2 separate regions of the Homo sapiens genome follow, and region 1 is linked to region 2. The links come from fine-mapping of genetic effects on gene expression. A gene starts in region 2. The other region holds a variant in brackets. All regions are shown on one strand. Distances are from middle to middle.

What was found. PIP is the estimated chance that this variant, and not a neighbour inherited with it, causes the effect. A credible set is the group of variants that fine-mapping cannot tell apart.
Region 1: its variant is the best candidate, but not a certain one, in a credible set for the expression of RELA in liver (GTEx, PIP 0.53).

What each region holds. Positions count from the first base shown.
Region 1 is chr11:65,751,168-65,763,312 of GRCh38, forward strand. No RefSeq gene overlaps it. Among named protein-coding and RNA genes, the nearest start is that of AP5B1, 24 kb to the right of the region's middle. The variant C/T (reference allele first, on the strand shown) is at 6,624.
Region 2 is chr11:65,656,728-65,668,872 of GRCh38, forward strand. RELA (RELA proto-oncogene, NF-kB subunit) reads right to left here and starts at 6,189. Exons shown (of 11, transcript NM_021975.4): 1 at 6,099-6,189; 2 at 5,452-5,478; 3 at 5,210-5,361; 4 at 4,960-5,108; 5 at 3,397-3,488; 6 at 2,939-3,070; 7 at 1,991-2,095; 8 at 1,560-1,772. The coding sequence starts at 6,105. RELA-DT (RELA divergent transcript) reads left to right here and starts at 6,279. Exons shown (of 4, transcript NR_183625.1): 1 at 6,279-6,421; 2 at 8,719-8,816; 3 at 9,404-9,490. RefSeq lists silencers at 5,876-5,935, 5,996-6,405 and an enhancer at 6,496-6,695.

The sequences.
Region 1 (12,145 bases), 94 kb after region 2:
GGTCATCTAGATTTGTTCCTATGTTATCTTCTATGAGTTTTACAGTTTTGTATTTTACATTTAGGTCTATGATCCATTTCAAGTTAATTTTTGTGGAGGGTTTAAGGTTTGTGTCTAGATTCTTTTTTTCTTTTTCTTTCTTTCTTTTTTTTTTTTGCATGTGATGCCCAGTTGTCCCAGCACCATTTGTTGCACAGACTATCTTTGCTCTATTTGTATTGCCTTTGCCCCTTTGTTAATGATCAGGTGGCTATATTTATGTGAGTCTGTTTCTGGGCTCTTTATTCTAGTCCATAGATGGATTTGTCCGCTCTTTTGCCAGTACCACAGTGTCTTGATTACTGTAGCTATATAGTAAGTCCTGAAGTTGAATGGTGTTAGTCCTCTGAGTTTGTTCTCCTTTAATATTGTGATGGCTACTCTGGGTATCTTTGGTGGTGGTGATGTTTGTTTTAAATGTCTCCATATAAACTTCAGAATCAGTTTGTCAATATAAGAAATAACTTGCTGGAATATTGATTGGGATTGCATTGAATCTATAGACCAAGTTAGGAAGAACCGATATCTTAACAATATTGAGTCTTCCTAACCATGAACGTGGAACATTATTTATTTAGTACTTCTTTGTTTTCTTTCATCAGAGTTTCATAGTTTTTAAAAAATATATAAATCTTGTACATATTTTGTTAGATTTGTACTTAAGTATTTCATTCTGGAGGGAGCTGATGTAAATGATACCGTATTGTGTGTGTGTGTTTGTTTTGAGACAGGATCTCAATCTGTCACTGAGGCTGGAGCGCAGTGGTGTGATCATAGCTCACTGAATCCTCAGCCTCCTGGGCTCAAGCAATTCTCCCATCTCAGCCTCCCCCGTAGCTGGAACTACAGGCATATGCCCCATACCCAGCTAATTTTTTTTGGTAGAGATGGGGTCTCATCATGTTGCCCAGGCTGGTCTCAAACTCCTGGGCTCAAGCAATCCTCCTGCCTTGGCCTCCCAAAGTGCTGGGATTACAGGTGTGATCCACTGTGCCCAGCCTGCATTTTTTATATTTTATATTTTTTATTTTTTAGGTACATAGTAGGTGTATATATTTATGGGTTACATGAGATGTTTTGATACAGGCATGCAATGCATAATAATCATATTCAGGTAAATAGGGTATTCATCACTGCAAGCATTGAACCTTTATGTTTCAAACAATCCAATTATACTCTATTAATTGTTTTTAAATGTACAATTAAATTATTTTTTGCTATAGTTACCTTGTTGTGCTAGCAAATAGTAGGTCTTATTTATTCTTTCTAACTATTTTTTTGTACCCATCAACCATCTCCCCTTCCATCACCAGCCCCCACCGCCAACTACCCTTCCTGGTCTCTGGCAACCATCCTTCTCCTATCTCCATGAGTTCAATTGTTTTCATTTTTAGCCCCCACAGATAAGTGAGAACAGGTAATGTTTGTCTTTCTGTGCCTGGCTTATTTCACTTAACATAATGTTCCCCAGTTCCATCCATTTTATTGCAAATGACAGGATCTCGTTCTTTTCTATAGCTGTATGGTACTCCATTGTGTATATGTACCACATTTTCTTAATCCATTTATCTGTTAATGGACATTTAGGTTGCTCCGGAGTCTTAGCTATTGTGAATACTGCTGTAATAAACATGGAAGTGCAGACATCTCTTTGAAATACTGATTTCCTTTTCTGCGGGTATATATCTAGAAGTGGGATTGCTGGATCATATGGTAGCTCTGTTTTTAGTTTTTTGAGGGACCTCCACAATGTTTTCCACAGTGGTTGCACTAATTTACCTTCCCACCAACAGTGTACAAGGGTTGCCTTTTCTCCACATCCTCGCCAGCATGTGTTATTACCTGTCTTTTGAATAAAAGCCATTTTAACTGGGGTAAGGTAATATCTCATTGTAGTTTTGATTTGCTTTTCTCTGATGATCAACTATGTAGAGCACCTTTTCATATGCCTGTTTGCCATTTGTTTGTCTTTTTTTGAGAAATATCTATTCAGATCTCTGGCCCACTTTTAATCAGATTATTAGATTTCTTTTCTAGAGAGTGGTTTGAACTCCTTATGTATTCTGTCAGATGGTGTGATGGTTAATATCGAGTGTCAGCTTGATTGAAGGATACAAAATATTGATCCTGGGTGTGTCTCTGAGGGTGCTGCCAAAAGAGATTAACATTTGAGTCAGTGGGCTGGGGAAAGCAGATCCACCCTTAATCTGGTGGGCACAATCTAATCAGCTGCCATTGAATATAAAGCAGGCAGAAAAACGTGAAAAGGAGAGACAGCCTTCGCCTCCCAGCCTTCATCTTTTTCCTGTGCTGGATGCTTCTTGCCCTCGCACATCGGACTCCAAGTTCTTCAGTTCTGGGACTCAGACTGGCTCTCCTTGCTTCTCAGCTTGCAGAAAGCCTATTGTGGGACCTTGTGATCATGTAATAAACTCCCCTTTATATATAGAGAGAGAAAGAACACTGACTAATACAGATGGGAAGTTTGCAAATATTTTCTCCCATTCTATGGGTTGTCCCTTCACTTTGTTGATTGTTTCTTTTGTTGTGCAGTAGCTGTTTAACTTGACGTAATTCCATTTATACATTTTTGCTTTGGTTGCCTATACCTGTGGGGTATTGCTCAAGAAGTATTTGCCCACTTTGATGTCCTGGAGAGTTTCCCCAGTGTTTTCTTTTGGTAGTTTCATAATTTTCAGTCTTAAATGTTTTTAATTCATTTTGATTTGATTTTTTTGGCAAGAGATAGGGGTCTAGTTTCATTCTTATGCATATGGATATCCAGTTTTCCCAGCACCACTTATTGAAGAGACTGTCCTTTCCTCAATATATATTCTTGGAAACTTTGTCAAAAACGAGTTCACTGTAGATGTATGAATTTATTTCTAGGTTTTTGATTCTGTTCCACTGGTTTATGTATCTGTTTTTATGCCAGTGCCATGCCGTTTGGTTACTATAGCTCTGTAGTATAATTTGAAGTCAGATAATGTGATTCCTCTAGTTCTGTCCTTTTTGCTTAGGATAGCTTTGGCTATTCTGGGTCTTTTGTGATTCCATACATATTTTAGGATTTTTAGGATTTTTTTCTATTTCTGTGAAGAATGTCATTGGTATTTTGACAGGAATTGCATTAAATCTATTGGACATTTTAACAATGTTGATTCTTCCTATCCATGAACATGAAATATCTTTCCATTTTTTGTGTCCTCTTCAATTTCTTTTCTTTTCTTTTTTGAAATAGGGTCTCACTCTGTCACCCAGGCCAGAGTGCAGTGGTGTGATCATGGCTTGCCAAAGCCTTAATTTCTCAGGCTCAAGTGATCCTCCTGCCTCAGCCTCCTGAGTAGTTGGGCCTGCAGGTGCGAACCACCATGCCCAGCTAGTTTTTCTTTTTTGTGTTTTTTGTAGAGTTGAAGTTTCACCACGTTGCCCAGGCTGGTCTCGAACTCCTGGACTCAAGAGATCCACCTACCTTGGCCCCCCAAAGTGCTGGGATTACAGGCTTCAGCCACCATTCCCAGCCTCACTTCAGTTTCTTGCATGAATGTTTTATAGTTTTCATTGTAGAGATCTTTCATTTCTTTGGTTAATTCCTAAGTATTTTATTTTATTTGCAGCTATCCAGCCTGTGTTTTTAATTTCAGATTCCACTTGTTCATTGATGGTATATAGGAAAGCAATTGATAATTTTATATTAATCTTGCATGCTGCAATGTTGCTATAACTGCTCATTAGTCCCAAGGGTTTGTTGTTGCTGATTTTTCCAGATTTTCTACATAGACAATCATGCCATCTTTACCACCTTTCTTCCTTCCCAATCTGTATACTTCTATTTCTTTTTCTTGTCTTAGCATTAGCTAGGACTTCCAGCGTAATATTGAAAGGAGTGGGGAGAGAGGACTTTCTTTCCTTTTTTCTGATCTTAGCAGGAAAGCTTCTAGTTTCTCACTGTTAAGTAAAATATTAGCTATACGGTTTTTGTACCTTTTAAAAATCAAGTTAAGGAAGTTCCCCTTTATTCCTAGTTTACTGAGAGTTTTTTTAAATCACAAATGGGTGCTGAATTTTTTCAAATGCTTTTTCTGCGTGTATTGAATTATCATTTGATATTTCTCTTTTAGACGTGATGGATTACATTAACTGATTGCATACCTGGGATAAATCCCCATTTGGTCATGGCATATAATTATCTTTATGTATCATTGGATTTGATTTGCTAATATTTTGTTGAGGATTCCTGTACCTATGGTTATGAGAGATATGGATCTGTAGAGTTGTTCTGGTAATGTCTTTATCTGGTTTTAGTATTAGATGCTGACCTCATAGAATGAATTAGGAAGTGTTTTCTCTGCTTATATCTTCTGGAAGAGATTTCACAGAACTGGCATAATTTCTTTCTTAAATGTTTGGTAGAATTCACCAGTGAACTCATCAGGCCTGCAGCTTTCTGTTTTGGAAGATTATTAATTATTGATTATTATGGTCTGAATGTTAACAAAATTCATATGTTAAACCTAATTACCAATGTAATAGTATTAACAGGTGGGCTCTTTAGTTTTTAGGAGATGATTAGGTCATAAGGGTGGAATAGAACTAATGCCTTTTTGTTTTTTTTTGAGACAGAGTCTTGCTCTGTCGCCCAGGCTGGAGTGCAGTGGCGCAATCTCAGCTCACTGCAAGCTCCGCCTCCCAGGTTCACGCCATTCTCCCGCCTCAGCCTCCCGAGTAGCTGGGACTACAGGCGCCTGCCACCACGCCCGGCTAGTTTTTTGTATTTTTGGTAGAGACCAGTCTGGGTGACATAGCGATATCCCATCTCTAAAAAAAAAAAAAAAAAAAAAAAAAATCCTCTAAACACTGCTTTTGCTGCATTTCACAAATTTTGATAAGCATATTTTTATTTTCTTTTAGTGCAAAATATTTTTTAATTTCTCTAAGTTTTCTTCTTTGAGTCATGTGTTAGTTATAAGTATGTTGCTTAATCTACAAGTACGGGGATTTTTTTTTTTTTTTTTTTTTTTTTTTTTTTTTTTTTGAGACGGAGTCTCGCTCTGTCGCCCAGGCTGGAATGCAGTGGCGGGATCTCGGCTCACTGCAAGCTCCGTCTCCCGGGTTCACGCCATTCTCCTGCCTCAGCCTCCCAAGTAGCTGGGACTACAGGCGCCCGCCACTACGCCCGGCTAATTTTTTGTATTTTTAGTAGAGACGGGGTTTCACCGTTTTAGCCGGGATGGTCTCGATCTCCTGACCTCGTGATCCGCCCGCCTCGGCCTCCCAAAGTGCTGGGATTACAGGCGTGAGCCACCGCGCCCGGCCAAGTACGGGGATTTTTCAGCCATCTTTCTGTTATTGATTTCTAGTTTAATTCCATTGTGGTCTGAGAGAAGAAATTGCATGGTTTCTATTGTTTTAAATTTGTTAAAGTGTGTTTTATGGCTCAGAATGTGGTCTATCTGGTGAATATTCCATTTGGTCTTGAAAACAATGTGTATTCTGCTGTTGTGGGATGAACTATTCTATAGATGTCAACTGTATTCTTTCTTAAAATTTTTTTTTCTTTTTTTTTTTTTGAGACAGAGTCTTGCTCAGCCACCCAGGCTGGAGTGCAGTGGCGCAATCTCAGCTCACTGCAAGATCCGCCTCCCGGGTTCACGCCATTCTCCTGCTTCAGCTTCCCCAGTAGCTGGGACTACAGGCGCCCGCCACCACGCCCGGCTAATTTGTTTTGTATTTTTAGTAGAGACGGGGTTTCACCATGTTAGGCAGGATGGTCTCGATCTCCTGACCTCGTGATCCACCCACCTCGACCTCCCAAAGTGCTGGGATTACAGGCGTGAGCCACCGCGCCCGGCTAGATGTCAACTGTATTCTGTTAACTGGCAGTGCTGTTGAATTCAACTACATCCTTACTGATATTCTGCCTAGCAGATCTGCCTGTTTCTGTAGAGGAGTGCTCTTTTTCAAGATTGTTTTAGCTATTTAGGACCCCTTGCAATTCCATGTGGATTTTAGGATCAGCATTTCCATTTCTTCATAAAAGACCATTGGGACTGTCATAGGGATTGCATTGCGTTTATAGATTACTTTGGGGATTACTGCCATCTTAACAATACTAAGTCTTTCAATCCATGTACATGAATGTCTTTCCATTATTTATGTCTTCTTTATTTCTTTTAGCATGTTTTTTAATTTTTGGTATACAACTCTTGTATTTCCTCAATTAGATTTATTCCCAAGTATTTTATTCTTTTTGCTGCTATTATAAATGTAATTGTTTTTGTAATTTCCTTTTGGAATTGTTCATTGCTAGCATATATTATAGCGATACAATTCATTTTTGCCTATTGATCTTATATCCGAAAACTTTGCCGAGTTCATTTATTAACTCTACTAGTTTTTTGTGGATTCTTTAGGACTTTTTCATAAAAGATCACGTCATCTTTTAAGAGATATTCTTACTTCTTCCTTTCTGATCTATATGCCTTTTATTTATTTTCCTTACCTAATTACTCTGGCCAGAACTTCCAGGACAGTGTTGAGTAAAAGTGTTAAAAGTGGACATCCAGGCCGGACACGGTGGCTCA[C/T]CCCTGTAATCCCAGCACTTTGGGAGGCCGAGGCAGGTGGATCACGAGGTCAGGAGATCGAGACCATCGTGGCTAACACGGTGAAACCCCGTCTTTACTAAAAATACAAAAAATTATCCAGGTGTGGTGGCGGGCTCCTGTAGTCCCAGCTACTCGGGAGGCTGAGGCAGGAGAATGGTGGGAATCCGGGAGGCGGCTTGCAGTAAGCCGAGATAGCGCCACTGCACTGCAGCCTGGGCGACAGAGCGACACTCCGTCTCAAAAACAAACAAACAAAAACAAAAACAAAAAAGTGGACATCCACTGGGCACGGTGGTTCATGCCTGTAATCCCAGCACTTTGGGAGGCCAAGGTGGGAGGATTGCTTGAGCCCAGGAGTTCTAGACCAGCCTGGGTAACATGGTGAGGCCTCATTTCTTTTTTGTCTTTTTTTTTTTTTTTTTTTGGAGATGGAGTCTCACTCTGTCACCCAGGCTGGAGTGCAGTGGCGTGATCTTGGCTCACTGCAAGCTCTGTCTCCCGGGTTCACGGGCACCACACCCGGCTATTTTTTTGGTATTTTTAGTAGAGACAAGGTTTCACCGTATTAGCCAGGATGGTCTCTATCTCCTGACCTTGTGATCCACCCGCCTCGGCCTCCCAAAGTGCTGGGATTACAGGCATGAGCCATTGCGCCTGGACAGAAGACCTCATTTCTATTAAAAATAAAAAAAAAAAATCAGCCAGGCATGGTGGTGTGTGCCTGTGCCTGTAGTTCCAGCTACTTGAGAGTCTGAGGTAGGAGGATCATTTGAGCCCAGGGAGATCCAGGCTGCAGTGAGTTTTTAATTTAATTTTATTTTTTGAGACAGGATGTTGCTCTGTTGCCCAGGCGACAGAAAGAAAAAAAAAAGACATCCTTGTCTTATTCCTGATCTTAGGCAAAAAGTTCTCAGTCTTTCACCACCGAGTATGAGTTTTTTTTTTTTTTTTTTTGAGACAGAGTCTCGCTCTGTTGCCCAGTCTGGAGTGCAGTGGCTCCATCTCGGCTCACTGCAAGCTCTGCCTCCCGGGTTCACGCCATTCTCCTGCCTCAGCCTCCCAAGTAGCTGGAACTACAGGCGCCCGCCACCACGCCTGGCTAATTGTTTGTGTTTTTTAGTAGAGACGGGGTTTCACCGTGTTAGCCAAGATGGTCTCGATCTCCTGACCTCATGATCCGCCTGACTCAGCCTCCCAAAGTGCTGGGATTACAGGCGTGAGCCATGGCGCCCGGCCGAGATTTTTTTAATAAGTGCCTTTTATCATGTTGAAGAAGCTCTCTTCTATTTCTAATTAGTAAAAATTTTTTATCATGAAAGGGGGTTGGAGTTTATCAAATACTTTTTCTGCATCAGTTGAGATGATCATTGTTTTTTTTTCCTTAAGTTTTAAGAGTTCTTTAGCCCTTGGTCTGTTGTAAATATTTTCTCCCATTTCATCAGTTGTCTTTTTATTCACATGTAGTTGTAAGTACTAATACAGATCTCTTTACCCTTAAACCTGTTTCCCTCAACAATAACATCTTGTAAGACTATGGTATGATATCATAACTAGGATATTGGTATTGATACAGTCAAGATACTGATCATTTCCATGATCACTTCCCTCTCACTCACACCCACTCCTTAACCTCTGGCAATCACTAATCTGTTCTCCACGTCTACGATTTTTGTCATTTTGAGAATGGACTATAAATGGAATCATACAGTTTGTAATATTGTAGAGTTACCTTTTTTTCACTCAACATAATCCCCTGGAGATTCATTCAGGTTGTCATGTGTATCAGTAGTTTGTTCCTTTTTTATTGCTGAGTAGTATTCCATGGTGCAGATGTACCAAAATTTGTTAACCATTCACCCATTGAAGGACATCTGATTTGTTTCCAGTTTTTAGCTATTATGACCAAGGATGCTATGAGCATTCATGTGTGGGTTTTTTGTTAATATGTTTTCATTTCTCTGGGATAAATGCCCAAGAGTGTAATTGGTTGGTTGTATGGTGGTTGCATGTTTAGCTTTATAAAAAACTGCCAAGCTCGGCCAGGCGCCATGGCTCATACCTGTAATCCTAGCACTTTGGGAGGCCAAAGTGGGTGGATCACTTGAGCTCAGGAGTTTGAGTCCAGCCTGGACAACATGGCAAAATCCTGTATCTACTGAAAATACAAAAATTAGCCAGGCATTGTGCTGCATGCCTGTGGCCCAGCTACTTGGAAGGCTGAGGTGGGAGGATCACTTGAGCCTGGGAGGCCGAGGTTGCAGTGAGCTGAGATTGCACCACTGCACTCCAGCCTGGGTGACAGAGTGAGACCCTGACTCTAAAACAAAACAAAAAACCTACAGATCAATTTAGGGAGAATTGAAAATTGCTATGTTACATCTTCAAATACAGGAACACAATATGCCTCTCCATTTATTTAAATCTTTTCTTTCATTAGCACTTTATAATTTTCAATTTTCAGCATATATATCCTACACATATTTTGTTAGGCTTATACCTGAGCGTTTTATTTTCTTTGGAATGATTGTACATTGTTTTGTGTTTTACATTTTGGTTTCCATATGTTCATTGTTAGTATATAAAAATGTGAGTGATTTTTATGTTACTCTTCATCTGCAACTTTGCTGAACTCAATTAGTTCTAAGAGGTTTTCTGTTTTCTTTTTAGTTTGTTTATGGTGATTTTTGCCATGCAATTTAAAAAATATAGTCAAGCTATCATTCTCTTATTTTATTGTCTGTGGATTTTTTTTTTTTTTTGAGACAGGGTTTCCCTCTGTCACCCAGGCTAGAGTGCAGTGGTGTAATCTTGGCTCACTGCAACCTCTGCCTCCTAGGCTCAAGGGATCCTCCCACTTCAGCCTCCTGAGTAGCTGGGACCACAGGCAGAAACCACTACGCTCAGCTGATTTTTGTACTTTTTGTAGAGAAAGTATTTCACTGTATTGCCCAGGCTGGTCACCAACTCCTGGCCTCAAGTGATCTGCCCACCTCAGCCTCCCAAAGTGCTGGGACTACAGGTATGTGCCACTGTGCCTAGTGGATTTTATTTTTTTAACATGAAGTCTTACTCTGTTGGCCAGGCTGAAATGCAGTAGCGTCATTTTAACTCACTGCAACTTTGAACTTCTGGGCTCAAGCAATCCTCATGCCTCTGCCTCCCAAGTAGCTAGGACTACTGACATGTGCCACCATTCCTGAATAACTTTTTAATTTTTTGTAGAGACAGGATCTGGCTTTGTTGCCTGGGCTGGTCTCAGGCAACCTCTTGACCTCAAGTGATCCTCCCACCTCAGCCTCCCAAAGTGCTGGGATTACAGGCGTCAGCCACTGCATCTGACCTATTTGTTTTAAGCAGTCAGAAATTCAGTGGATATATTTTGTATTAATGTCTGACAGAGCTAGTCTTCACCATAGTTATTCTTTTTTTTTTGGTATTTTTCTGGGTATTCTTGCATTTTTTTCTATGTAAATATTAGTTATCAATTACATAATGCCATATAAAAGCTTATTGGTACTTTTATTGGGATTGCATTAAATTTATAAAGTAACTTAAGAAAAGCCAACATCTTTATAATGTTGAGTTCTACCCGTTTATGTAAGTCTATCTTTGTGACTTTCAGGAGTATTTTAAAATTTCCTCATATAAGTTTTGCACATTTCCTGATACTTTTATTTCTAAGTATTCAATCTTCTTCAATACTATATAAACGAATTTTATCATTATGCCCTCTGATTATTGTTTGTTTGTATGAAAGTTATTGATTTTTGTATGTTAGCTTTGTATGCTGTCACTTTACTGAATTTTTTAGTTAATTTTATTTTTGATTTGAGTTTTTCCAGCATTGTTGGCAAATAGAGATAATTTTACTTCCTCTTTACCAATCTTATGCTTTGAACTGATTTATCATGTTGAATTGCAATGGCTAATACCTCTAGACAATGTTGAATAGTAGCAGAGATGGTGAGCATCTTTGTGTTGTTCCTGAGCCAAGTGAAAAATGCTTTTAGTATTTCCCTATTAAGTAAGATGCTGGCTAAAGCTGTGATGTTGGGATATAATAAGAAATTCTGTACCATTTTCTGGCATAGAACTTCTAATCCTTTGGAATTTCCTGAGCTATAGGAGCATGTATTTTCCCCTAAAATCTATTTATTAGGAAGAATGAATTTTCATAATTCTAGTAGCAAATCATACTACAGAAGTATCAGATAGAATTCTCATAGCCTTGATATATTGTCTCAATGTTATAAGAAGTTGACCTCCAAATCAACAATCATAGTCAACTGAAAAATATCATTTGTTGATATCTTTCAGAGGCCAAGACATGATTTTCTGACTTTTTTTTTTTTATCACTCCATTTATAGGAAATTTCTTTTTTCTTTTCTTTTTTTTTTTTATTGATCATTCTTGGGTGTTTCTCGCAGAGGGGATTTGGCAGGGTCATAGGACAATAGTGGAGGGAAGGTCAGCAGATAAACAAGTGAACAAAGGTCTCTGGTTTTCCTAGGCAGAGGACCCTGTGGCCTTCCGCAGTGTTTGTGTCCCTGGGTACTTGAGATTAGGGAGTGGTGATGACTCTTAACGAGCATGCTGCCTTCGACCATCTGTTTAACAAAGCACATCTTGCACCGCCCTTAATCCATTTAACCCTGAGTGGACACAGCACATGTTTCAGAGAGCACAGGGTTGGGGGTAAGGTCATAGATCAACAGGATCCCAAGGCAGAAGAATTTTTCTTAGTACAGAACAAAATGAAAAGTCTCCCATGTCTACTTCTTTCTACACAGACACAGAAACCATCCGATTTCTCAATCTTTTCCCCACCTTTCCCCCTTTTCTATTCCACAAAACCGCCATTGTCATCATGGCCCGTTCTCAGTGAGCTGTTGGGTACACCTTCCAGACGGGGTGGTGGCCGGGCAGAGGGGCTCCTCACTTCCCAGAAGGGGTGGCCGGGCAGAGGCGCCCCCACCTCCCGGACGGGGCGGCTGGCCGGGCGGGGGCTGACCCCCCACCTCCCTCCCGGACGGGGCGGCTGCCGGGCGGAGACGCTCCTCACTTCCCAGATCGGGTGGCTGCCGGGCGGAGGGGCTCCTCACTTCTCAGACGGGGCGGCTGCTGGGGGGAGGGGCTCCTCACTTCTCAGACGGGGCGGCCGGGCAGAGACGCTCCTCACCTCCCAGACAGGGTCACGGCCGGGCAGAGGCGCTCCTCACATCCCAGACAGGGCGGCCGGGCAGAGGCGCTCCTCAAGTCCCAGACAGGGCGGCGGCGCTCCCCACATCTCAGACGATGGGCAGCCGGGCAGAGACGCTCCTCACTTCCTAGATGGGATGGCGGCTGGGAAGAGGCGCTCCTCACTTCCCAGACTGGGCAGCCAGGCAGAGGGGCTCCTCACATCCCAGACGATGGGCGGCCAGGCAGAGACGCTCCTCACTTCCCAGATGGCGTGGCAGCCGGGCAGAGGCTGCAATCTCGGCACTTTGGGAGGCCAAGG
Region 2 (12,145 bases):
AAACCAGAAAATCTCGGCCAGGCGTGGTGGCTCACGCCTGTAATCCCAGCACTTTGGGAGGTCGAGGCGGGTGGATCACGAGGTCAAGAGATCGAGACCACCCTGGCCAACATGGTGAAAACCCCGTCTCTACTAAAAATACAAAAAATTAGCCGGATGTGGTGGCGGGCGCCTGTAGTCCCAGCTACTCGGGAGGCTGAGGCAGGGAGAATCACTTGAACCCGGGAGGTGGAGGTTGCAGTGAGCCGAGATTGCACCACTGCACTCCAGCCTGGGCGACAAGAGTGAGACTCTGTCTCAAACAAACAAACAAAACCAAACCAGAAAATCTCAAGTGACGGTGGTCCAGGGACGATATGGTGATGTAACAATACTGGAAGTGAGGTCAGGACAGTCTAAATGTAGAGGGAAGGGCTAATTTAGAGGTCAGGGAAGGACTGGCATGAGCCACTTGCATTAAAACCTTGGGCATTCCAAGCAGAGGCAACAGCTAGACACAGGTCCTGAGGTGAGACTGAGCTTGGTCTGTAAGACGCAAAACGGCTGCAGGGCTGAAGGGTAACTGAGGACAGTGGTGGAGATGTGATCTTGCTCTGCTATTCCTTCTGTAAGGTTTGTGCCGCATCTTCTCTTCCTGGACTACAGCAACATTTCCAGAATGGCCTCCCTGCTTTGAGTCTGTCTGTCTCTGATCTTCTACACGTGGCCTCCTGAGTCAACTTCCAAATCTGCTCCTGTCACCTCTCTGCTTAGAGGCCTTCAGCTTAACCAGGCCCTCCAATCTCTGAGCCTGCTCACTGCCCAACATCAGCTCAAACCACGAAGGTGGCCCTGAATAGGCCGTGCAGTTGCCAACACCCCTTCCCTTCCAGGTGCTGGGCCACCTGCCTGGAGAACACACTTCTGTGTCTTTCTCCAGCTTCAATGCCACCTTCTCCATGCAGCTGTCTCCAGCTCCCCGGAGGCCACTGTGCCCCCGTGCTTCTCTGCGCACACCTCCATTTCACATGTCATTCCGTGACTTAAGGATCTGTTTTGCACATTTGTCTTCCTCAAGTGACTGAGACTCTGAAGGGCAGGGAGCATGTCTTACTCATTTTTTGTATTCACAATACCTGGCACAGGCCCTGGTACCAAGTGGACACTCAAACCTCGACCAAAATGTGGCTGGGCTGTATGGTAGTGACAAGACAACCAGTGTGGCAAAAGGATCCTGAAGCCAGATGGCCTGGGTTCCAACGCTGACTCTGCTAGACTCTGCTACTTACTAGCCACGTGAACCCAGGCAAGTTGGACACTATCTCCTACTTCAAAAGGGTCATGAGATTAAAATCAGGTAATCCAGTGAAGTGCCTGGAATAGGGGCAGATGTGTAGTACTAGCTCAATGTCTGAGGTATCATTATTATTAAATGAGGCAAGAAATGGATTCCAGTTTCTTGGATCCCAAGCTCTGACTCCAGCTTCTGGCCCTCAACCACAGCCCCAGACATGCAGTCTTGGCCTCTCTCTCACGGCACAGAGCCCAGCTGCCCTGATGCTGCCACCCCAGCTGTGTACCTGTATCTGGCAGGTACTGGAATTCCATGGGCTCACTGAGCTCCCGGTCGGAAGGCCGCCGCAGCTGCATGGAGACACGCACAGGAGCCTGCAGGCTGGGGTCTGCGTAGGGAGGGGTCCGGAACACAATGGCCACTTGTCGGTGCACATCAGCTTGCGAAAAGGAGCCTCGGGCCTCCCAGCCTGGTCCCGTGAAATACACCTCAATGTCCTCTGCAGGAGATGCGGTGGCAGTGTGGGTCAGTGTGTCTAACCCTCCATGGTCTCCCCCTCAACTTCTGATGCTTGTCTTCTGATACATCACCCTTCGGCCCACCTGAGGCCCCCGAGGCACAGGAGGAAGTATCCAAAGCCAGTTACCTGACACTCCACTTCTCTGCTCAGCTTCACCCCTTGCTCCCAAGAGCCCACCCCTGCCTCCTGATGTATACCTTTCTGCACCTTGTCACACAGTAGGAAGATCTCATCCCCACCGAGGCAGCTGCCAGAGTTTCGGTTCACTCGGCAGATCTTGAGCTCGGCAGTGTTGGGGGCACCTGAGGCAGTGAAAACAAGGGAGGATGACCTGAGCCACGAGAGGTCCCCAGGGTGGCCTGCAGGAGATGCAACTTCCCTGCCCAGCCCAGAGTCAAGGTTGCCCAGAGCTTGCCACCTACACCTTTGTAGCCAAAGTCAGACCTTCTTATTAGCTCCTCACCCCAACCGATTCAACAAGTATTTGCCTACTGTGCACTCAACACTGATCTAAGCAAGAATACGACCACACACAAAACCCAAACCTCTCTGCTCTCCCGGAGCTTATAGTCCAGTGGGTGCCAATCTGATCACACTCTTTCTCCACCTGACCAAAGCAATCTTTAAGGCCAGTCCATACCCACCTTGGCAATGAGCCCTTCCCTCCTGACCCCCAGTTTATCCTGGTTTCCCATCCTTGGGGCTCCAGATTCGTTTTATTTCCATTCATCCTGCTGGTTACTTAACTAAAGACTGCAGCTGATCAGTCAGCCCAATTCATCTGTGGGCTTCCATCACTGAATCATCATTCTCGAACACTATCTTGTTCCTGGGAGTTCATTTCCTAGAGTCATTATCGCAGTTGTGGGCACACCACCTTCTCATCACACAATACTGAAAATGCCCATCTCCCATCAGACTCTCTGCTAGACTTCCTGCCAGGCCAGAGCTACACCTCAAGGACAGCTCTGGGTCTTCTTTGCCCTCTCTCCCCAGCCAACAAAGAGCTGGGCAGAGAAGAGTAGACAAATACGCAAGATGATTGAATGAAGCCAGAGCGCCTCTTGCAGGCCACACTCACCCCAACCCCCTTCCTCCTATTCAGGCCCACCCTCTCCCCTTCCTGCGTCTCCCTCGCTACTCACGATTGTCAAAGATGGGATGAGAAAGGACAGGCGGCAGGCGGAGGGGCCTGCCTGATGGGTCCCGCACTGTCACCTGGAAGCAGAGCCGCACAGCATTCAGGTCGTAGTCCCCACGCTGCTCTTCTATAGGAACTGCCAAGAAAACAGGCGATCAGGAGAGCAGGGGAAGTGGGGATATAGGTGCTATCAGTGGGGGCAGGGAGCTCTGCGCTGGGAGGGCCGCTGGTGCGTGTGTGAAACACAAGTCCTAGAGGAGGCAGAACCCAGCACTGACTCCACTGTGGCCTGAATGTCATGTCCCCTCCTGGGACTCAGTTTCCCAGTGGTAAAGTGGGAGAGTACTGAATGGGCACCAAGATTCCAGCTTTACTGTGTCTTGGCCAGTGAGGGAGATGCAGGAAAGGCGGGCTGGGGAGGGTGACAGAGGGTGCGGGTGTGGCAGGCAGGTTTGCCCTCACCTTGGAAGGGGTTGTTGTTGGTCTGGATGCGCTGACTGATAGCCTGCTCCAGGTCCCGCTTCTTCACACACTGGATTCCCAGGTTCTGGAAACTGAGCGCCCCCAGTCGTCTGTCCCACTGTCTCTCACAGAGCCCAGACCTTCCTGCCTTGCCCAGCCTGCTCCTTCCTACTCTGCCCACCCCTAGATCATCGCTCCATGCCTAACCCTCTCCAGTGGCTTCCTACTGTGCTGCAACGAACCCTGTCCCTTCACTCAGCTGACAAGCACCTCCGTGCCCCTGCCCCTGCCAGCCTCCCTGTGGGCTCCCTGCTTACAGCCACCGGGGCTCCTTTTCCACTCTCTAAACACAGGACACTCATTCCCACCTCAAGGCCTTTGCACTTGTTTGGTCGGCTTGGAATGTTCTTTTCCTACTTCTCTCCTCCTTCTCACCATTCAAGTCTTAGCTGAGGGAGGCCTTCCCTGACCTCCCAATCTAAAGTCATCACACACCAGCTCCCCTAACTCCCCCACCCCAGGTTATCCTTCTATCCTATGACCTCGTTTTATTTTCAGGACTGAAACTGTTACTCTGACAGCACCTTGTTTATTTATCTGTGTATTTATTTATTTTTAAGAGACACAGTGTCGGGCCGGGTGCGGTGGCTCAAGCCTGTAATCCCAGCACTTTGGGAGGCCAAGACAGGCAGATCACAAGGTCAGGAGATTGAGACCATCCTGGCTAACACGGTGAAACCCTGTCTCTACTAAAAAATACAAAAAATTAGCCAGGCGTGGTGGCAGGCACCTGTAGTCCCAGCTATTCGGGAAGCTGAGGCAGGAGAATGGCATGAACCCGGAAGGTGGAGGTTGCAGTGAGCTGAGATCGCGCCACTGCACTCCAGTCTGGGGACAGAGCAAGACTCTTTCTTAAAAAAAAAAAAAAAAAAAAAAAGACAAGGTATCGCCCTGCCACCCAAGTGCAGTGGTGCAATCATAGCTTGCCGCAGCAGTGACCTCCTGGGCTCAGGCGATCCTCCCACCTCAGCCTCCCTGGGACTATAGGCGCATGCCACCATACCCAGCTAATTTCTTATTTTTTGTAGACATGGGGTCTCACTATGTTGCCTTGGCTAGTCTTGAATTCCTAGGCTCAAGAGATCTTCCTGCCTTGGCCTCCCGAAGTGCTAGGATTATAAGCATGAGCCACTATGCCCGGCCTGTATATTTTTTTACAGCCTGTCTCTGTCAACTGCAATGTCAACTCCAGGGGAGAGTGCTGGTTCAATGGTTTTCTTCCTCAAACAAGAGACGTGACTCTGAGGGACTTGTCCTTCCAGCTACAGGGGTCAGGAATTCAGAAGTGATTAGGGACCCATCCGTATCCCCTGGAACTCATCTGCTAGAGTAAACGTACAAATAGATAATTTCAAGACAAAGGCAGTTTACTTGCAGAGCTGAGTCAGGGCAAGGAGTGAGGAATTCTGCCCTGGGTCCAGAAAGGAGTAACACTGTAGCGGCTACTTCATAGCCCGCCTCCTGTCCCCTCATGCTGGGCCTCCTAGCCTGCAGGGACCTCACCTGTGGATGCAGCGGTCCGGGCAGAGCTCAGCCTCATAGAAGCCATCCCGGCAGTCCTTTCCTACAAGCTCGTGGGGGTGAGGCCGGTGAGGAGGGTCCTTGGTGACCAGGGAGATGCGCACTGTCCCTGGTCCTGTGTAGCCATTGATCTGTCCAAAGTACAGAGGCCCAGACATCCAAACCTGACTCCCAAACACAGAGGGCTGGGGTTCCACAGTCCCTTCCCCGCACACCCTGGCGCAGTGCTGACCTTGATGGTGGGGTGGGTCTTGGTGGTATCTGTGCTCCTCTCGCCTGGGATGCTGCCCGCGGAGCGCCCCTCGCACTTGTAGCGGAAGCGCATGCCCCGCTGCTTGGGCTGCTCAATGATCTCCACATAGGGGCCAGAGGCCTGGGCTGGCTCTGCCAGGGGACACCGCAGCCCCATTAGGCGGCTGCCCCCACTGCCCTACCCCAGGGAGCACCTCCCCGACCGCCGCGGGGGCCACTTACCTGCCGGGAAGATGAGGGGGAACAGTTCTGAAAGGGGAGGGAGATCAGGGTCAGCACACACCCAATGCCCATTCTCACAAGGAGGAATCTGCTCTCCACGGAGAGGAGAAGCCAGGCTCCCTCCCAGGGGAACTGAGTCAGGACCTGCTCCCTAGAACCTGCGGTGAAACTAAGGGGTGGAGGAAAGGAACCAGAAACACCTGCTTCTTGAGGGAAAACGGGGTAAGGAATCCTTCTTCTCCAGAGGGAAGCTGAATCAGGGCCTGTTGTACTTTCTTAAGGAAAATTGAGGGAGGGCACGCCCCACCTCCCTCCAGAGAGGAAACTGAATCAGATGCGTTCTCCCCTAATAGGGAAACGAAGCCAGAGCTGCCCCCATGGACGGTGTGGAGGGAAACTGAGTCAAGGTTCCCTCTGCTCCCCCACCCAGGGAGGATGCTGAGTCAAGGGCCACCCCCTCCACCCAGAGGGGAAACTGAGTCAGACCCCTCCCCGCCTGCCCCGCCCCGCGCCACCATCCGGCAGGCCGACCGCTCCCTGCGCAGCGCCCGTCGGCGCAGGAAGGGGCGGAAAGCGGCGCGGGGGCTCCCGCCACAGCCGCGGCGGCCCCGGCGATGCCACCCCGCGGGGTCAGAGGGCGACCTCACCGTCCATGGCCGGGGTCCCGGGGGCGGGGCCGGGGTCGCAGCTGGGCCCGCGGCGTGCACTACAGACGAGCCATTCGCCAGAGGCGGAAATGCGCCGCGCGGCCCGCCGTCGCGTCACTGCCCGGAATCCGGCCGCGCCTGCGCGCTGCCCCGCCGCCGCCCGGCGCAGGGGCCGGGAGCAAGTGCACGCCGCGCGGAGGACGAAGAGGCTGCACGCACAGCCGCTGCCGGGGGTCGGGGCCAAGTGCGCGCCTCGCCGAGGACGAAGAGGCTGGCGTGCCCGGTGGCTCGGCTAGCTCCCGGGTCCCGGCCCCGCCTGGAGGGTGGGTCCGCCGATTACTCACTTTGTTTTTAGGGGATTTCAGGGCCCCCTCCCGCCGATCGGCGGAGTTTGGTGATGTCACTCTGGGCCGGGTCTGGAGCAAAGCCAGGGCTACTGGGCTGCGGCCGCCCGCCCCGCGCAGGGAAAAGCCCGACCGGGCCTTCTGCTCCGCAGAGGCCGGGTGGTTGAACTCCGCGCGGGTTTCCTAACCGCTAAAGGTGCCTTTCGGTGGTGGCTGTCTCAGAAGCACGTTAAAATGTCCTACCCACCCCAATCTAGATGCGGCTGTGGGGGAATGGGAGCGGCCGGACCTCCCAGCCTGACAGTGCATCAAGAGCTTTGCGGAGCCTACAGCCCGGATGGGACGACTGAGGCCCTCCCGCTGGCGAGCTGGCCGAGGGCTCGTCCCTCTCCAGCTAAAGCGCCAGCTTACGATACAGCCAAACTGCCGGCTCTCATCGGCTGTGGGAGCAGGAGGCCCCCAGGGGTAAATCCCGGAGCCTCGTCTCTGAAGCCTGGCGCTTGTGTCTCAGAAGGTGCGGGACCCACAGGGACACTTGAATCAGCAGGCTCACGACCCCCCACCCCCCTGCCCCCGCCTGTGTTTGCCCTGGACCTCCAGCTAGGGCTGACCACTAATTCTGTCATGTGACCCCACAGTGCAGGTAGCTCCCCCAAGACCAAGCCCAAGGCGCGTCCGTGTGGAGGCTGGGGCTGACGCACCCCCACCCCAGGCCTCATCCCCAAAGGAGGATGCTCCACTGCAGGGGGCGGAGTCTTCTCCAGATGGAGAAAGACTTTTTTATTTTCTCTGAATTCGTCTTAAATTAGGAAATCATGTGGGAATTGGAAAAGATTGGAAATTCTGACTTGTTTCCCAGGCTCTGAAGAAACAGGAAGAGAAAAGTGAAAATAGAGTTAGCACCCCGCCCACTCATTTCAGTTTCTCCAGTGGCTGGCCCTGATTAGAAAAGTGTTTACTTTTGGCAGGGGGCGGGGGAGGCCGACTTCAGGTGACAGAATGGATTAATTAAAATCTTTGGTTAATGATATACAATTATCATTGAACCTTGCATGGATCCTCTTCTTAAAATTCATGTATATTTATAACTTTTAAATTAATACGATAAACACCCATGTACCCATTGCAAAACTCAAGGGGCCACCACCATCCAGAATTCTGTATTGTATTGTATTGTATTGTATTGTATTGTATTGTATTGTATTGTATTTATTTATTTATTTATTTTTTGAGACACGGTCTGTCTCTGTCGCCCAGGCTGGAGTGCAGTGGCACAATCTCTGCTCACTGCAGCCTCTACCTCCTGGGCTCAAGCAATCCTCCCACTTCAGCCTCTTGCATAGCTGGGACTACGGGAGCACACCACCATGCCCGGCTAAGTTTTTGTATTTTTTGTAAAGAAGTGGTTTAACCTTGTTGTCCAGGCTAGTCTTGAACTCCTGAGCTCAACTTTCCTCCCCGCTTGGCCTCACAAAGTGCTGGGATTACAGGCGTGAGCCACCACGCTGGGCCAGAATTCTGTATTTTTTAAATTAATTAATTAATTAATTTATTGTAAATAGAGATGGGTCTCACTGTGTTGCCCAGGCTGGTCTCAAACTCCTGGGCTCAAGCGATCCTCCCACCTCAGCCTCCCAAAGTGGGATTACAGGCATGAGCCACCACACCTGGCCCAGAATTCTGTATTTTAAAGAAAAAAAAAGTTATATCTGCATGCCTACACAATATATCTTTTGGTTTTCCTTAGTTTTGAACTTTTTTTTTTTTTTTTTTGAGACAAAGTCTCACTCTGTCGCGCAGGCTGGAATGCAGTGGCATTCTGCTTACTGCAACCTCTGCCTCCTAGGTTCAAGCGATTCTCCTGCCTCAGCCTCCTGAGTAGCTGGGATTAAAGGGGCCAACCACCACGCCCAGCTAATTTTTGTATTTTTTTAGTAGAGACGGGGTTTCACCATGTTGGCCAGGCTGGTCTCGAACTCCTGACCTCAGGTGATTCGCCAGCCTCTGCCTCCCAAAGTGCTGAGATTACAGGTGTGAGCCACCGCACCCAGCCAGTTTTGAACTTTTATGAAGAGGGCATCATATGATTTGTTGTCCTTTGTTACTTGCTTTTTTCACTCAACCTGTTACTATGATTCATGTTTCACAGTTAATTCACTTTTTCACTGCTGTATACTATTTTGTTGTGTAAATATACCACAGTTTGTTTATTCATCCTGAAGATAGGCATTTTTATTTTTATTTTTTTGAGATGGAGTTCCTCTCTTGTGGCCCAGGCTGGAGTGCAATAGCACCATCTCGGCTCACTGCAACCTCTGCCTCCCAGGTTCAAGTGATTCTCCTGCCTTAGCCTCCTGAGTAGCTAGGATTACAGGTATGCATCACCATGCCCGGCTAATTTTGTATTTTTTTTTTCTTTTGAGACAGAGTTTCGCTCTTGTTGTGTGCAATGGCACAATCTCGGCTCACAGCAACCTCTGCCTCCCAGGTTCAAGTGATTCTCCTGCCTCAGCCACCTGAGTAGCTGGGATTACAGGTGCCTGCCACCATGCCTGGCTAACTTTTTGTATTTTTAGTAGAGACGGGGTTTCACCATGTTGGCCAGGCTGGTCTCAAACTCCTGACCTTAGGTGATCCACCTGCCTCAGCCTCTGAAAATGTTGGGATTACAGGCATGAACCACTGCATCTGACTAATTTTGTACTTTTAGTAGAGACAGGGTTTCACCATGTTGGCCAGGGTGGTCTCTAACTCCTGACCTCAGGTGATCTGCCCGTCTCGGCCTCCTAAAGTGCTATTACAGGCGTGAGCTACCGTGCCCAGCCATGGGCATTTGGACTTCTAATTTTTTGCTGCCATAAGCTTTAGAGCACTGAGTAATATATAAAAACAGCAATCATGTAGTTTTTAAAACTTAGTCTGGGGTTAAAGAAGTATGTAAACAACTATGTTTTCTTAAAGATTTATAGGAGCATTGTGACTGGACCAAGGACAAAGAAGTTCCCAACCTCCTCAGACCCTCGCTGCTGCCCAGATGTCTGCCATGGGGTACTTCTTGACCACACCCTCCTTCTCTTCCCTGCCCTTAACATAGAAAGAGCCTAAGATTGTACTGACTTAAAATGGTACTTTAGAACGCTAGTACACCGTCCTCTCAGTCTTGCTGGCTTTCAGAATAAATCAGTAAACCTACTTTTTCTCCCACCAACGCCCCTATCAGTTGGGATCCTCTTACCTCGGCCTCCCAGGTAGCTGGGACTATAAGCACTCACCACCACACACAGCTAATTAAAAAGAAAACAATTTTTTGAGGCAGGGTCTCACTCTGTCGCCATGCTGGAATGCTGTGGCATGACTCGTTGCTCACTGCAGCCTCAAACTCCTGGGCTCAAGCAATCCTCCCACCTTAGCCTCCCAAGTAGCTAGGACTAACAGCGTGCACCACCACACTCAGCTAATTTCTTTTTTTTAATTTTTAGTAGACACAAGATCTTGCTATGTTGCCAAGGCTGGTCTCGAACCTCTGAGCTCAGGCGATCCTTCTGTCTCAGCCTCCCAAAGTGTTAGGATTACAGGCATGAACTACCAAACCCGGCTGAGTTTTTTAAAATCTTAATGAATGCATGGATTTAAATATATTAGCTGTGTTTTAATCAAGTATAGTTATTGAAATTCAAATTATTCGTCTTTGGTTAGGGAGAACTTCTTCAAGTTGGTTGTTCTTCAGTCCTTTTGACACAATTCCAATATATGAGTCTTGGTGGCTCATACCTGTAATCCCAGCACTTTGGAAGGCTGAATGGGGAAGACTGATTGAGGCCAGGAGTTTAAGACCAGCCTGGTCAACATGGCAAGATCCCTATGTCTATTAAAAAAATAATTTTAAAAAAGCAATTACAGTAGCCTGTGATAGCTTCTTTGCTGTTTGGTATGAAAAGATATTTCTTTTCTTTTTCCTTTTTTTTTTTTGAGATGGAGTTTCGCTCTTACTGCCCAGGCTGGAGTGCAATGGTGCAATCTCGGCTCACTGCAACCTCTGCCTCCCGGGTGCAAGCAATTCTCCTGCCTCAGCCTCCCAAGTAGCTGGGATTATGGGAGTGTGCCACCACGCCCAGCTAATTTTTGTATTTTTAGTAGAGATGGGGTTTCCATATTGGTCAGGTTGGTCTCGAACTCCTGACCTCAGGTGATCCACCTGCCTTGGCCTCCCACAGTGCTGGGATTACAGGCATGAGCCACAGCGCCTGGCCTGAAAAGATATTTCTAGACTCATCTAGTAAATTTTCTGCCCCAGATCTGGAATCAGACAGCTTTCCAAGGAGTCCTGATTTCTCTTAGTAGGAAATGATATTTAAAGACTACAGCTTGAGTACTTCGGATACTTATTGCTACTGAGTCAGTCATTGTAGATGTTTTCGGTGAATAGTTAGTACTTTTTTTTTTTTTTTTTTTTTTTGAGACAGAGTTTCACTCTTGTTGCCCAGGCTGGAGTGCAATGGCATGATCTTGGCTCACTGCAACCTCCGCCTCCCGGGTTCAAGTGATTCTCCTGCCTCAGCCTCCCGAGTTGCTGGGATTACAGGCATGCGCTACCACGCCCGGCTAATTTTGTATTGTTAGTAAAGACAGGGTTTCTCCATGTTGGTCAGGCTGGTCTCCAACTCCTGACCTCAAGTGACCTGCCCGCCTCGGCCTCCCAAAGTGTTGGAATTACAGGCGTGAGCCACCATGCCCAGCCAGTAATTTTTTAAAAAATGGGAGTCTTGCTCTGTCATCCAGGCTGGATTGCAGTGGTGGTGTGATCATAGCCCATTGCAGGCTCGAACTCCTAGGCTCAAGTGATTCTCCCTCCTCAGGTCCCCCAGTAGCTGGGACTACAGGCACACACCACCATGCTCAGCTAATTTTTTATTTTTTAGTAGAGAAGAGGTCTCACTATGTTGCCCAGGCTCATCTTGTACTCCTGGGCTCTAGCACTCCTCTTGCCTCAGCTTCCCAAAGTGTTGGAATTACAGGCATGAGCCATTGTGCCCAGCCTAGCTGGTAATTTTTTTTTTTGAGATGGAGTCTTGCTCATTCGCCAGGCTGGAGTGCAGTGGCGCGATCTCGGCTCACTGCAACCTCTGCCTCCCAGGTTCAAGCAATTCCCCTGCCTCAGCCTGCTGAGTAGCTGGGACTACAGGCACGCGCCACCACACCCTGCTAATTTTTTTGTATTTTAGTAGAGACGGGGTTTCACCATGTTGGCCAGGATGGTCTCGATCTCCTGTCCTGACCTTGTCATCTGCCTGCCTTGGCCTCCCAAAGTGCTGGAATTACAGGCGTGAGCTACCGCACCTGGCTGTAATTTTTTTTAAATACGAAATGCATCAGGAGTTCATACTAATGTTTCATATTCAAATTTAGAATTATAGGGTTTTTAAATTTTATTTATTTATTATTATTATTTTTTTTTGAGATGGAGTCTTGCTCTGTTGCCCAGGCTCACTGTAACCTCTGCCTTGTGGGTTCAAGCAGTTCTCTGCCTCAGCCTCCTGAGTAGCTGGAATTACAGGCACCTGCCACAATGCCTGGCTAATTTTTATATTTTTAGTAGAGACGGGGTTTCACCATCTTGGCCAGGCTGGTTTTACACTCCTGACCTCGTGATCCACGTGCCTCAGCCTCCCAAAGTGCAGGGATTACGGGTGTGAGCCACCGCGC